Regions from separate parts of the Homo sapiens genome. Here region 1 is linked to region 2. The links come from fine-mapping of genetic effects on gene expression. A gene starts in region 2. The other region holds a variant in brackets. All regions are shown on one strand. Distances are from middle to middle. Region 1 overlaps SPATS2 (spermatogenesis associated serine rich 2). Region 2 holds the start of SPATS2 (spermatogenesis associated serine rich 2).

Region 1 (2,913 bases), 140 kb after region 2:
AACCAAACTACCTGCAAAATATTATCTCCAAAAATATCTAAAATGTGTAGAAATAAAGGAATGTGCTAATGTAATATGTATTATCAAAAATGTACATAGCACTGTAGTTCTAAATCATTCTTTGGTTTTTGAAGCTTAGTTTGTTGATATCTTGTTTCTACTAGTACTTGACACCATGGTTCTTGATATTTTTTTATTTAAAATTTAACTCTAACCATCTGTGAAAATAATTACAGGTTGAGTATCCCTTATCTGAAATGCTTAGGACTAGAAATGTTTTAGGTTTTTTATTTTTATTTTTTTCAGATTTTGGAATGTCTGCAGAAACTAGTTGAGCATCCCTAATCTAAAAATTCAAAATCCAAACTGCTCCAATGAGTATTTTCTTTCAGTGTCATGTCAGTGCTCAAAAAAGTACAGCTTTTGAAGCATTTTGGATTAGGAATGCTCAACCAGTAATAACATATGAAGAATATTTTACTGAACATGTTCAGTTATATTATTGGATTTTTTTAATCCTGATTTCTTTTCCACAAAGTAGGTATTGTTAATTCTGTTTTACTGAAAATAAATGTATGTCTTAGGTTAAGCAATTTGCCTAAGTTGCAGATCCAATATTTGAATGTATATATTCAGACTTATTAACCTATGATTTTCATCTCATACCTCATTGATGGCTCACTTCCCCACTAAAGCTTGGCAAGGCTAGAGACTGTTGGTACATGTCATATTACAGACAGTTCCCTACTTATGATGGTTCAACTTAATAATTTTCCAACTTTATGATGGTATGAAAGTGATACACATTCAGTAGAAAGCATACTTTGTATACCCATACAACCATTTTGTTTTTCACTTTTAGTGTAGTGTTTAATAAATTACATCAGATATTCAACACTTCATTATAAAATAGGTGTTGTGTTAGATGACTTTGCCCAACTGCAGGCTAATATAAATGTTCTGAGCATGTTTAAGGTAGGCTAGGCTAAGCTTTGATGTTCAATAGGTTAGGTATATTAAATGCATTATCAACTTAAGATATTTTCAATTTGCACATGCCTGTAATCCCAGCACTTCGGGAGGCTGTATTCGTCTGTTCTCACACTGCTAATAAAGACATACTCAAGACTGGGTAATTTATCAAGGAAAG[A/AG]GTTTAATTGACTCACACTTCTACGTGGCTGGGAAGGCCTCACAATCATAGCTGAAGGCAAAGGAGGAGCAAAGTCACATCTTACATGGTGGCAGCCAAGAGAGCTTGTGCAAGGGAACTCTCATTTATAAAACCATCAGCTCTTTTGAGACCTACTACCACAAAAACAGTATGGGGGAACCACCCCTATGATTCAGTTATCTTCACCTGGCCCCACCCTTGACACTTGGCGATTATTACAGTTGAAGGTGAGATTTGGGTGGGGACACAGCCAAACCATATCAGAGGCCAAGGCAGGAGGATTACTTGAGTCCAGGAGTTCAAGACCAGCCTAGGCAACATAATGAGATCCCGTCTTTACAGAAAGTAACAAAATTAACTGGGCGCAATGACACGTGCCCATAGTCCAGCTACTCAAGAGGATCGCTTGAACCCAGGAAGTGGAGGCTGCAGTGGGCCATGATCTTGCCACTGTACTCCCACGCTGGGTGACAGAGCAAGACCCTGTCTCTTTAAAAAAAAAAAAAAAAATTTCGATTTACAGTGGGTTTATTGGGACATAACCCCATTGTAAGCCGAGGAGCATCTGTATTGTTTCCTCTTCAGCTTAAAGGCTATGTAACAGAGAAACCCCAATGTAGGAGAATTTAGGGACTAAGGAACTTAGTCATTATGAAACAGGTTAGGATGAGAAGCACCAGGATTTAGGCTGAGCCTATGAAAGTATTTTCTAAGTTCAATAAAGTAAAACTATAAGAATACTCCATCTGAATATTCAATGTTCTTTTGATTTTGTGATTCAGAAGGTCCTAAATCACTATTATTCTTAAGTCACAACTTGTAGTGCCTTGTGATTCTGGGATTCTTCAGGTCAGATCAGAGTAGCGGGAAAGGTTTTAAGATTAAAGGCAGGGCCACTGTGGGGTGGGGTTAATTAGAAAATATTTCTTTGGGGAAATGAATCATTATCAAGCTATGTAAAAAGCATGGTATTTACACTGGCGGAAAGGTTGGGGTGGACCACTGCATTTCAGAGATATGAGCAGAGGCATAGAAGGGACACGTAGGGACCACACACAGTCTAGCTGTTGCTATGGGGCAATAGTGAAAGTAGCGAGGGATGAAGTCAGAGGCTGAGGTATAATGAGAGCATTTGATGGAGGGATCTGAATTTTGTTTTTCCTTTTTTTAAAGATTTCATTATTCCCTCTTACTTTTACTATATTGCCCATAATTATAATCGTTTTATTAGATATAAGTAAAACTCAAAATTCTACCACCTTAACACATAAGTAATTTTTATTTCCTGCGTTCCCTTGTGTTCCTTATGTATATTCATACATATTCTTGAATAGTTGTAATCGCAGTGAGAGTGTAATTTCAATGTGATCTTTTCACTTAAAATTAGTTTGATTCATCACTTCATAACTGCCTACACTGTGTTAGTGTGCGTACATGTTTATTTAATAATTTCTGTACAATGAATCTGGAATGTATAATGATTTACCGGTTAATACGATTGCATTTTACTAAAGAGATATTCTGCTGAAACTGAGAAATCAAGATGAATACAAGAATTAAAATAATAATTGCTGCCGCTATTTACTGAGCTCAATTACTAAGCTTTTATTGTATGTCAGAAACTTTTATGTACAGTGCTTCTAATCTATATAACATTATCACTTGTGGTATTACGTTCATGTTATAGGTGAGAAAGATGGGCACAAAAATATTTTACCCAAAGATACTTTTCCACTACACCA
Region 2 (2,913 bases):
CCGGCTCACTGCAACCTCCGACTCCTGGGTTCAGGTTATTCTCCTGCCTCAGCCTCCCGAGTAGCTGAGATTACAGGCGTGTGCCACCACATCCGGCTAATTTTTGTATTTTTTGTAGAGACGGGGTTTCACTATGTTAGCCAGGCTGGTCTCGAACTCCTGACCTCAAGTCATCCGCCCGCCTCGGCCTCTCAGAAGTGCTGGGATTACAGACGTGAGCCACCGCGCCCGGCCCCAGATTCTAATAAATATTTTCAATGCTGACTGTCTAAATCCCTCTGGCCCCTCTTAATAGACCCCTGACCAGTCGACACTGAGGTAAGTGCTTTATGCATGCAGAAAGGGTGCACAAATACTAGTTAGTTCCAGCACCAGGGAGGTTGGGAGTCTGGCGTCGAAGAGAGTATTTAACAGAAAAGATTCGAAGGGCGGCGGGACCGACCACCGCCGCGTAGAGGGGCTATGCTGACAGCTGGGTAGATCAGAAACCCGACTGACGATCCCGAGGTCATTCTTCCCGCGCCCCCACCGGCCTCTGCGCTCTCTCAGGAGGCAGAGCGACCGCGCGGTCCGGAGGCCCCAGCGTTTCCCGTCGTTGGCGACTCTGAAATTGCCTTTTGGAACAAAACTTGGGTCGGGAAGGAGGCGAAGGGGAAAGCGGTGTGAAGTCCTCGGTACGGAAGAGTGAGCGGCGCTGTACCCGGCGGCCAGAGAAAAAGCTTCCCAACCCGGACATTGAGCAAAAGCCCCGCGCTCGACTCCCCTAGCGGCGCCCGCGTTCGGCCACCTCCGGGGGAGTTTCGGCTCTTTCCGTCAGTTCAGCTCGGGCCCTCCGTTCCCGGCGCGCGCCGGGTCCCTAACCGATGCCGCCGGGTACGAGCTGTGCTGCACGCGGACGCGAGCTCGCGTCCCACCCGTTTTCCCCTTCCATCTACTTTGTCCCCAACCCTCTCCCCGAGTCTCTTCCTTTCCCCGGTAATTCCCAGTCTCCGGTGGCGCGCGAGCCTGCGGACGGTGCGAGACGCGAGGGACCGGGCCCCGAGAAGAGCGGTAACCCGACTGGTCGGAGCCCGCCTCTCGCCGCCCCGCGCCTCTCCCCGATCTTCTCGGTCTCCGGTGCGCGGGCCGTCTCGCCGCTCGAGCCGCGCTCGCGCACCCGTTGGCTGCCACAGCCTCGAGCTTGGCGCGCCGGATTCGCGCCGGCGCGAGTACGCGCCCTGAGCTCTGGCTGGCTGGCTGGCGCGCACGCGCCCGAGAGGGCTCCGGGGCGGGGCGAGCCGCTGCCTGGGCGAGGGTCGGGGTGATCTGCTGGATCTCCGGCAGCATCCTGCAGTCCGGCCCAGGAGAGAAGTGGGGAGGCGGCGGTGGGGGCGGGGCGGCGTCCGGCTCTGAGAGAGCTGGGGGAGGAGCGCGGCGGCGACGGCGGCGGTGGCTCTAGAAGGGGAGGTGGAGGATCTCCTTTCCTCTTCTCAGACCCGGGAGCGTCCGGGACGCGGAGCCCGGAGCTGGGGCGACGAGGCGATTGCGGGGGCCTGGGCTAGGTGAGGCTAAGGGTGCTGGGTGGCGGGGTTGGCGGGGGCTCAGAGGGCGCCGAGGTGCGGGGAGCGGGTTGAGGGAGGAAAAAGAGGGAGGGGGTAGTTGGGGGCGGGGGGACGGGAAGGAGGGGGATGTGAGCCCTTAGAGGCCCGAAGTGCCCAGAGGGTGGAAGGTTCCTGGGGTCTGTGGGGCGGGTGAAACACCCGCGTCGGAGTTGGGGAGTTTCCAGACGGATAGGCCGGGGAAACAATGGAGTGTGGGGGGGACTCTGGCGTGAGCGTGTGTGGGGTATTGGATTTTAAGAAACAACGAGCGAGATAGAACGAAAGAATAGGATCATTTGGGATGAGAAGTACAATGAATTAGGAATGCAGTAGGGATGCGTAAGGTCACCTCCGTGGCTGTGCGAGGTCCTTAGCATTCGGGGGCAATAATGAGATTTGAAAATAAGGGAGAGAAGGGCGTTCTTGGAATTGAAGGGGGAGACGAAATGGAAAATCAGGCGAACAGACGCAGAGACATAAAATAGATGTGGTTAGGACTTGGATTAAAGCAGAAAGGTAGATTCAGTCAGTTTTGGACTACAGTGATATTTTTCTCATAATTCATCCAGAATGATTAGGTTCTTTTAGAAAGTGGATCTTTCTCAAGCTTGTCCCTCTGTTAAGGAGTACAAGCCGTTCTTTAAATAATTTGATTATCGCTTGTCCATTTTATTGATAAAACATGCCTGTGATATTTACTTCCCCTCTGTTTAGCAGGCTACTGTTCCTAATTTACCTACGGTTAATGAAGCAGGAGAGGACAGATCACCAAAAATATCTTGCTTTAAGTTAGGTCAGTGATAATGCAGATTTCAGTGTTTTGGAGAGAACCAAAAGCTTGGTTGTTTGTTTTCAGTTTGACCAAAAGGTGATGGATAAAATTAAGTTACCTGTACTTTGTTAGAATTGCAATTTCTCACTGAGAAATGTTCTTGTGCCATCTGCTACTGGTTTTGTGTTTGTGGGAGAGAGTTGGGGTTCTGCCTTAAATTATTTCTTGATGTTAACTTCAAATAGGCTGCCTCATACCTTCCAGTTTCAATTAAGGTGATTTGGGAATATTGATTATGATGTTTGCATTTCCTTAATATTTGGATTTCCAGACCAAATTTGTGATTGTACTAGATAGAAAATTGCCGATTTTGAAATTGTAATGACCATTGTGTGCTCCTAAGTAGTCCATGTTAAGCCTTTTATTTGTTGGGCATTAAGTTTTGCTGACTCATCTAAGATTTATGGACATTAATCAGTTTGTATTTCTCAGCTAGGTCTTGGATGGTAGCATTTAGGTTACTTTACAAAGGTCCAAAAATAATGATTTAAATTGTTACTT

What was found. PIP is the estimated chance that this variant, and not a neighbour inherited with it, causes the effect.
Region 1: its variant is the best candidate, but not a certain one, in a credible set for the expression of SPATS2 in thyroid (GTEx, PIP 0.63).

Annotation. Positions count from the first base shown.
Region 1 is chr12:49,505,173-49,508,085 of GRCh38, forward strand. All of the region lies in intron 9 of SPATS2 (spermatogenesis associated serine rich 2), which reads left to right. Among named protein-coding and RNA genes, the nearest start is that of KCNH3, 32 kb to the right of the region's middle. The variant A/AG (reference allele first, on the strand shown) is at 1,151.
Region 2 is chr12:49,366,047-49,368,959 of GRCh38, forward strand. SPATS2 (spermatogenesis associated serine rich 2) reads left to right here and starts at 1,416. Exons shown (of 14, transcript NM_023071.4): 1 at 1,416-1,541. RefSeq lists an enhancer at 496-755 and silencers at 1,046-1,525, 1,546-1,595, 1,626-1,695.